2 separate regions of the Homo sapiens genome follow, and region 2 is linked to region 1. The links come from fine-mapping of genetic effects on gene expression. A gene starts in region 1. The other region holds a variant in brackets. All regions are shown on one strand. Distances are between the middles of the regions.

The links. PIP is the estimated chance that this variant, and not a neighbour inherited with it, causes the effect. A credible set is the group of variants that fine-mapping cannot tell apart.
Region 2: its variant is the best candidate, but not a certain one, in a credible set for the expression of SCML1 in whole blood (TOPMed, PIP 0.89).

What each region holds. Positions count from the first base shown.
Region 1 is chrX:17,735,358-17,739,753 of GRCh38, forward strand. It overlaps SCML1 (Scm polycomb group protein like 1), which reads left to right and starts at 2,136. Exons shown (of 8, transcript NM_001037540.3): 1 at 2,136-2,323. NHS (NHS actin remodeling regulator) reads left to right here. Exons shown (of 9, transcript NM_001291867.2): 9 at 1-637.
Region 2 is chrX:17,756,449-17,760,844 of GRCh38, forward strand. No RefSeq gene overlaps it. Among named protein-coding and RNA genes, the nearest start is that of SCML1, 21 kb to the left of the region's middle. The variant TTAAG/T (reference allele first, on the strand shown) is at 1,987.

The DNA of each region.
Region 1 (4,396 bases):
TTGTGAAGAACATCAATCCGAACTTTTCTTCTGTTGTTTGCACTGATGCGATTTTTTGTTCTTTTATGTTTATACAACGTATCTATGTTGTGTAGGGGAAATTTTTTCATTTTTTAAAAATTCTACTTTGGTTTTGTTGTTGTTTTGATTTGTTTTTGGCTAAGTAGAGGACATGGACTAGTTGTAGCAAACAGAACATGCTGTTTGCTCTTGCCAAAGGTCAGTGAGTGAGTGCATTTGCTGCAGTGGTGGCACGTAGAGAACTAGATGGTAATAAAGATTTAAAACTATGAAGAAGGTTACAGTGTAACTATTTTGGTACTAGAACCAGTTCATGCTGGCCGAAACGACAATGGTTTATGGACTTGCATCCATTTTGTATTTTTGTAATATTTGTAAATATGAACTTTTTAAATTGCTGCAAAGATGGTTTCTTTTGTAAGATGTTTTCAACGTTTACATTCAATCCAAGCCTTTGTATATTTTAGAGCTGTGCAACACTTTAAGTCTTGTATTTATTTTTAGTAAAAATGGTGACAGTTTCATTGTGAACCCCTCTCAAAAAAAATGTATCAGAAAAGTTTGATTACCTAGAAAGTGTGTATAGAAACTGCAAATAAACGTGACTGCAATTAAACAACCGGTTTCTCTCTTCACTGTTACGTAATTGATTTCTTGGGGCTTCGCAACAGTGTTTTACAGGCAACAGGACATAAGGGCAGGGTCTGTTATGGCAAAAGTAGGAGCAAAAAGAACATAGACCAGCCTGTCCAACATGGTGAAACCCGTCTCTACTAAAAATACAAAAATTAGCTGGGCATGGTGGCAGACGCCTGTAATCCCAGCTACTCTGGAGGCTGAGGCAGGAGAATCGCTTGAACCCAGGAGGCAGAGGTTGCAGTGAGCCGAGATCACACCGCTACACTCCAGCCTGGGCAACAAGAGCAAAACTCCGTCTCAAACAAAAACAAAAACAAAAAAAAAACATATACTATATCTATAATGGGCTTTAATCTAGCTTCGTATTTGAGAGGAAAAATGATACATTTCCAACGTCCAGTATACTTTCTTTGTAGCTCCTCTCTGGGCCAAGAAAAGATGTATAGCTTTACTTTGAAATATCTGCCTGCTTTGCTTCTGATAATTACTCAGACTGTGTCTCCTTCCCAAGATGAGCAGCCTCGATATAAGTATGTAAGACTATATGCCACTAGATGATGTCACATAGCCTTTATTACAATAGCAAAATTCTATGCCAGGTACTGTTCTAAGTGCTTTGCATACATTAACTCATGTAGTCCCCATATTATACCCATTTTACAGATGGGGAAACCGAAGCACAAAGCGGTTACTTGGCTTGCCTAAGGCCATAGGAGGACTGTGTTGGAGCTGGGGGTCCAATCCAGTAAATCTGCCTTCAAGGTCTGCGTTAGTTCCCCAGTCCAACTTGTGGGTGCTGGAGACTGGAAATATCTTGCCCGCCCCCCACCCTGGCCCCCCTCGCCCTTCCTACCAGACCTGGCTCAGGGCAACTGCTAAGGCCCCGCCCCTCTCCTCATTCCAAGTCAATCACTGGCGTGCGTCCAGGAAACCCAGTTTACGACGACGTCTCTGGTGCGTCACAGAGCGCGGGGGAGGGGCGGGATCACATTAAAAAAAAAAAAAAGCTTCGGACACCCCAACAACGAAGGGGGGACACCACGTCCCTAACTACAACGCCACTAGAAGGGTTGCGCATGCGCGCCAGCCTCCTGCGCAGCCGCAGAAACCACTCAGCGCGCGAGTCTCTGAAAGGCCTAACGTCCATTTTCAATCCTGCGGGTCTTGCGAAGGAAAACCTGAGGTAAGAGGCCCCGCCCCACAGCCATCTCCTCAGCAAATTCCCGCCCTCGGCCCCGCCCCACAGCTATCTCCTCAGCAAATTCCCGCCCTCGGCCCCGCCCCACAGCCATCTCCTTAGCAAATTCCCGCCCTCACCCAAGGACTGGGAGAGCACCCGCGGATTGGCCGATCAACGGTGACGCCTGTCAGTGGCCAGACTCCGATTGGTCAGCGGGTAGTCCCGCCCCCCCCCCCCCCCCCCCCCCCCCCAACCGCGAGTGTGGGAATTCGGCGTCGCGGGAGCTCTCTGATCCACTCAGGGGTCAGGGCATCACTGGTCTCGCGTGCGCGTGACCAGGCCCGGTTTCCGGTGCCAGGACCTTTCCGAAGCGTCGAGTGGCCTAACGGTCACAGCTGTCGCCCATCGGAGAGGCAGGACTACTGCGAGCAGTTTTACCGCGACCTCCGGAGGCCGGCGTGACAGGCTCTGTCACTAAAATAGGTCTGTCCAGTCGTACTTTTTCCTCACCTTGAACTTTCCGTCACGGGAATACACGATTTGGCTTAGGGGCCGGGGCTCTCCTGAGGAGAGAGGGTTTGCTTTGCGGGGAAGAGCGAGTCTTGACTTCGCAGCCTCCAATTTCAGCCGCGGTGTGGAGGGGGGTGCTTTGGGTGGTCCCCACAGCCTTTCCGGAGTGCCCGCGCGTGTAAGCTTTTGAGATTTGACAATTTGTGAAGTGCTTGGTGCTGACTTTCGGGGACGACAGGATCCTTTTACAGTCATTCTCCTGTCAGGGGAGGCAGGTGGGGAGCGAGGAAGGATCCAGATTTCGTTAACAGAGCTTTGAGTTTAAAGAATTGACAAACTCCCGAGTTGATTTCCTGTCAGACCTTTTGCGGTTGAGACATAGAGTCTGAGGCTTTGATGGTAACCGCGTTTGATTTAGAGACAGACTGTGCAGCTTCGCTGTTTTATTGTAAATACGTAAATGAGGAGGAAGAGAAAAACGTAGGGTGTTGGGAGCAGAGGCGGGAGGCGGGAGATCCTGCGAAATCGGAGTCCCTTTGGAGTGGGGGAGGCCGTCGAGGCGTGCGAGGGCCCGGCCCCCTTGCCGCGTGGTCGTTAACAGGAAAGGCCCTGATTTGGTTGGTGGCGGATCGCGTCCCTCCCTCCTCTCCCCGGCTCTCCCCGAGTGCGGCAAACTGGCTTCAGGTTGACTAAAAGATAGCGATTTTCCAAGCAGCTTTGCCGCGCGGTGTTTTCTAAAGCGGGGCGTGGGCTGGGTGCCCTTTTGGGCCTCACTTGTCCGGCCTGCGGCAAGTGCTGGGCGATGGGATGCGGTTCTGGCGGCAAAGGAAGGGCTGCCTTTGAGAGTCCCGCAGGAAGGTTTAGAAAGTGATTGTTCTTAAAACAAACAGAGCGTTTTGCTGTGTGTTCCTCAAAGTGGTCCCGGTGGGAGTGGCGCCTCATTGTGAGCTGTGCCTTATCTGATGAATTAATGGCAGGTGAAAGCCTTGCGCCTCCGGAGCGAATATTTACGACTTTTGAAAATGTCTTTAATGTCTAAAAAAAGTCTTTTAGAAAATCAGACGGCCTCTTGTTCTTATGTTATCAAGAGTTTAGATTTCTGTGGTAAATATAAGTGAGTTTCATTTTAAGTAAACTCATTTTACGAGATTTGAGATTTGAAAGTGAAATTAATTAATTTTGCACAATCTAGCCTTGGGCTCTGAGAAAATGTTGTAAAGCTGTAATTAATCTTGTGGGACGAAGTGAAAAGGAACTAAAGTGTATGGTGTAATGAATAGTTTAAATTTCTGTGGTAAATACAAGTGAGTTTCATTTTAAGTAAACTCATTTTTATGGGATTTGAGATTTAAAAGTGAAATTAATTAATTTCGCACAATCTAGTCATGGTTGGGCTCAGAAAATGTTGTAAAGTTGTGATTTATCTTATGGAAAGAAGTGAAAAGGAATTAAGGTATATGGTGTAATTAAGAGTTTAAATTTCTGTGGTAAATGCAAGTGAGTTTCATTTTAAGTAAACTCATTTTTACGGGATTTGAGATTTAAAAGTGAAATTAATTCATTTTGCACAGTGTAGTCATGGTTGGGCTCTGAGAAAATGTTGTAAAGCTGAAATTATTTATCTTGTGGGAAGAAGTGAGAAGAAACTAAAATGTGTGGTATTATCAAGAGTTTAGATTTCCGGGGTAAATATAAATGAGTTTCCTTTAAACTCATTTTTGTGGAATTTGAGGTTTAAAAGTGAAATTAATTTTGTAGAATCTAGTCATGGTTGGGCTCTGAGAAAATGTTGTAAAGCTGTAATTTATCTTGTGGGAAAAAGTGAAAAGGAACTTAAATTTATGGTGTTATCAAGAATTGGCCAGGCGCGGTGGCTCACACCTGTAATCCCAGCACTTTGGGAGGCCGAGGTGGGCAGATCACTTGAGGTCAGAAGTTCGGGACCAGCCTGGCCAACATGGTGAAACCCAGTCTTTACTAAAAGTACAAAAATTAACTGGGCATGGTGGTGCAAGCCTGTTACGCTAACTACTCGGGAGGCTGAGG
Region 2 (4,396 bases), 21 kb after region 1:
AGATCTTTAAGAAAGAAGGGACCTAGCTCCTCCCCTCGAGCTGCCTAGAACATAACAGACAAACCAGCGTTCATGAAAAGGAGAACATCAGGGCACTTATGACAGAGCATATGAGTCAGTGCCAAGTGCCCATAAGTGACGTGTCCTTATGTATCAGTAGTGGTGTGTCCTGTTCTCCTGCCATAGAACTGAAGCACTTAAGCACATGCATTTGTGGAAATAATCCCTCAGGGACAACGGGGCGGCCAGGGCAGGGTTTTGGCCTTGCCAAGCCCTGTTCCTCCTTTGGCCTCACTCTTCCACCTGGCTTTGGCTAGCCTTGGAGGCCCAAGTCCACTGATGTCAGGGGCGAGGTGGGTGCACATATTCCACGGGGGCAGAAATCAGTCCATTGGGAGCAGGACACATATCTTACAACTTCCTTTTATATTCATGTAAGACGAAAAAGATTAAGCTTCTCTGCAGTTAATGTACGGAGTCACTGATGTGTTCTAAAGGGCTGAACATTGTTGGTACTTGCCACCATCCCAGCCCTTCTCGGTTCCTCCCTGTCCTTAGAGGCATAAAGCCTGGACGCGACACTTGCCACACTCCTTTGCCAGTAGACCTGGATTCTTAGATTCTGCCCCAAGAGACCCTGTGCCCTGATTTGGGGAGGAGGGAGGTGAGGAGAAGCCGCTTCCTTCTGGTGGCTGCACAGGACAGGCTTTTGAGCATCAGCAGGAGGCAGATGTGGGGTTTGCCAGCAGCCTCTGGATATCACCTTGAGACTCACCCACTTCAGTCGTGCAGGCAGCTGAGACCACTGGGGGCAGGGGAGCTTCTCTGTGACTCTTGCAGTCCTGGATTTCTAGAAACTTCCTCAGTCCCTGCCTTAGTCCCTGCCTTCCAGGAGCCATATAAGCTTCTGATTCTGTATTAAACCATTTCCATTCTGAAGATTCAGAATGGCTCCTATGTTCCTGACCAGACCTGGACTTGTTTACCTTCTTCGGCATATCTGTCTTGTACAGGCCCACTGTTCAGAAAGAAGAGTAAAACTTCCATAGAAAGGGCCCTTTATATTATCTAGTTTAAGTAAACTAGTATATTTCATCAAATCTAAGACCTCTTTGATTGTAAGATGCACCACTGTTTAATAGTAAAGAAAATGCTACACATTAAACTATCACTCACCATTGATTATAAAATGCAAACTGATTTCATAGATGTTAACACGTGAAAAGATGGGTGGCTTAAGACATATAAAATGTTAGCTCTCAGAAGCTGAACAGGCGGTTTTAAAAGCTTAATGCAAACAAATTGCACTAATTGAATTGAAGACTAATACAAATTAAAACAAAAGCAATCTAATCAGATCTGCCCCAAATTCACAATTACCAAGGAGACTTTGAAATGTGAAATTATATCCATTGTCTTAAGTAAAAAGCCTTACCACAAATGTGTATTTTTTCTTTAGGTATTAACTAGTACTAGGATGAAGCCATCATATTTAGCAAGGCATTTAACGATTTCCTTGCATCCAGCCAAGGAAAAAAGGGGGAACTTGGAATGATTATAGATTAAGAGAGTCTTAAGAGGCATGTCACCCAAATGCAATGCACAGACCTCGTTTAGATGCTGATTAAAAGAAAACAACAGGAAAAACGAATACATGAGACAATCCAGGGAAAGGTGAATACCCAGTAGATATTAGATGATACTGAAGAGTTGCTATTAATTTCTAACAATGGTGCTAATTGGTATTATAATTATATTTTGAAAAGATGGTGCCCCTATCTCTTGGAAGTATCCTATTAAAACTTTGCAGATTAAATGAGATGATATCTGGGATTACTTTGAAATAATCCAACAGGGAAGGAGATGCAGATGAAACAGGGTTGGCCTTATGTTGGTATTTGTTGTGGCCAGTGATACATACATGGGAATCCATTATATAAATCTCTCTACTATCATGTATGTTTGAAATTTTCCATAATAAAAAGT[TTAAG/T]TATGCAGAACATGAAGACAAATTTCTCTATACTTTTCAGAGGTGTCTGAAGTCGAGCAACATTCACAACACAGAGGATTTCAGTAAATTAATGATTAATATTTAGACTTCTTGCTTGAGGTTTCTTAGTATTAGCCAAAGACAGCTAAGCCACCTACAACTGAGAAGCACCTGTTCTTCCTGTTGTGGTTGAAAAGGAAACAAGTTTGAAGTAATAGATGAAAAACAATACAGGACAAAGGATCAACTCATTCCTTTGTCAGTAAATAATTGGGAGGCGTGTAGAAAACAGGAAGACTTGAAGACACAAATCCAGATAAATGGCAGGGTGGCAGGTCTGCCATTCTGTTGAATGAAATGGCAGGTATTTCTGAAACTCATCAGTGTCTGGTGGAATCTGATGCTGCTTTCCTGGAGGAATTGATGGTCAGAAAGGGAAGACCCTCATCCCTTCACCCATACTCCTCTACACTCTGCCCTCTCCAAAGGGGCCTCTACCTCTAGGGTATTCTGGGGAATTCCTCCAAGTACAAGGCCTGGTGGTTTCAAAGTTGTTAGCACTCTCTCAGTTGGTTATTCCAGTTATTACCTCTCTAATTGTGTTTGCTTTTCAGACAAAGGGATTCAGTTCCTTTTTCATTCTTTTTCCCCATATACCGTCCTCTTCCATACACCTGAAGAAGCCCCTCATGACTCATATTTGCCAATATACACCGTTCTCCATGTTGGGAAGTCTCTCTCTCCCAGGAGAGTCCACCTAGGTCAACATCACCATGAACATCACTATGAAGTCACTACCTGTGGGTTTCCGAAGTCCATAAAATCCCTGTTTTTGGCCAGGCGCGGTGGCTCATTCCTGTGATCCCAGCACTTTGGGAGGCCGAGATGGACAGATCACTTGAGGTCAGGAGTTCGAGACCAGCCTGGACAACATAGTGAAACTTCGTCTACTAAAAATACAAAAATTAGCCAGGAGTGGTGGAGCACGCCTCTAGTCCCAACTACTTGGGAGGCTGAGGCAGGAGAATCACTTGAACCCGGGAGGCGGAGGTTGTAGTGAGCCGAGATCACGCCATTGCACTCCAGCTTACTCGCTCATGATCCGAAGTAGATGTCCTTCTGCCGGATGGTAATTTGGGGACCCAGGCTCCTTCTGTCTGTGGCTCCACCATCCCTAGGGCCTTGGGGTCCTTGGACTCCTGGTGGCAGGGCACACATCACTTCTGTTCCCATTCCATGGGCTGGACCTCAGTCACATGGCCACACCTCACTGTAACAGTGGCCAGGAAAAGTCTGTGTACCCAGGAAGACGAGGAAATGGGTCTTTGGTAACTAGCCAGCAGTCTCCACTATACATCACGTTCCTAACATCAGAACATCACCTGTTCATCCCTCTTGTAAGTTTGTCAGTTTCTCTGTGGCACCCCTCTAACCCCAGGACACTCACACACCTGGCTCCCCTTAGCCTCCTTCCCTGATATATTCTCTTTATGTCACTTAAACTTATGGCTGCTTAGATTATTGTTCCCAGCAATCAACTCTTCCCTGCAAAGAATATTTCTTCCCATCCATTGCCATGGAATTTGCAGTTTCTCCCTGAAGGCAAACTCTGTTGCCCAGCCCATTGTTGCACTTGGCCCTGAACCCTGCTTTGGCATTCAGGAGGTACACAAGTGAACTGAAGAGCACCACATCAAGCAGAAGCCTTCCCATGGGAGAGATCATCTGTCACATGCTTCTCCCTTGGCTGTGAGCACAGCATTGGCCAGACAGGGCTGCCCCTTCAGACTGGGTTCTGGAGCAAGCAAGAAGGCCTGCTGGGGCTGGGCCAAGGTCATCCTGTGGCCTCCTTCATATTATGTGAGCAAGAAGTAGTGTCTACAGTTGTAACTTACCGGGATTTGGGGATTCATTACCACAGCTCAAAAATGTGGTGAGATGTAACTGATACATTTCCTGCCACGGTTCATTCATTCATTCACTTGTTTATTTATTTGCATATTGGATGTCTTTCCCCACTAGAATGAACTCTTCATGAGGGCAGTGAGTTTCACCAGCTTTGATTCTGGCCATCAGGAATCAATTACTTGTTGATAGAATCGTAATCCTGGGAATCAGATTGAGGCTATTTTTAAGTAGCAAACACATACAGAGCCATTCCACAAGTGTCAGTGAATGACTGACATAAGGTGCCATTTGGCCTTTGGATTATTTTCTGGTTGGTTTCACTTCTGTGTTTTACATACAGCCAGTCAAGCACTGAAACTATAGGAAGAAAGAGGGAATTATTGGAAGACAGTGTGGCTCTGAAGAGAATTAAAAACTGGTTTAACATGACATCTTACTAGCAGCCATTGAGTCACTGACTCTCGACTTCTCACTAAATACCTTTCAGAAAATGAAAAT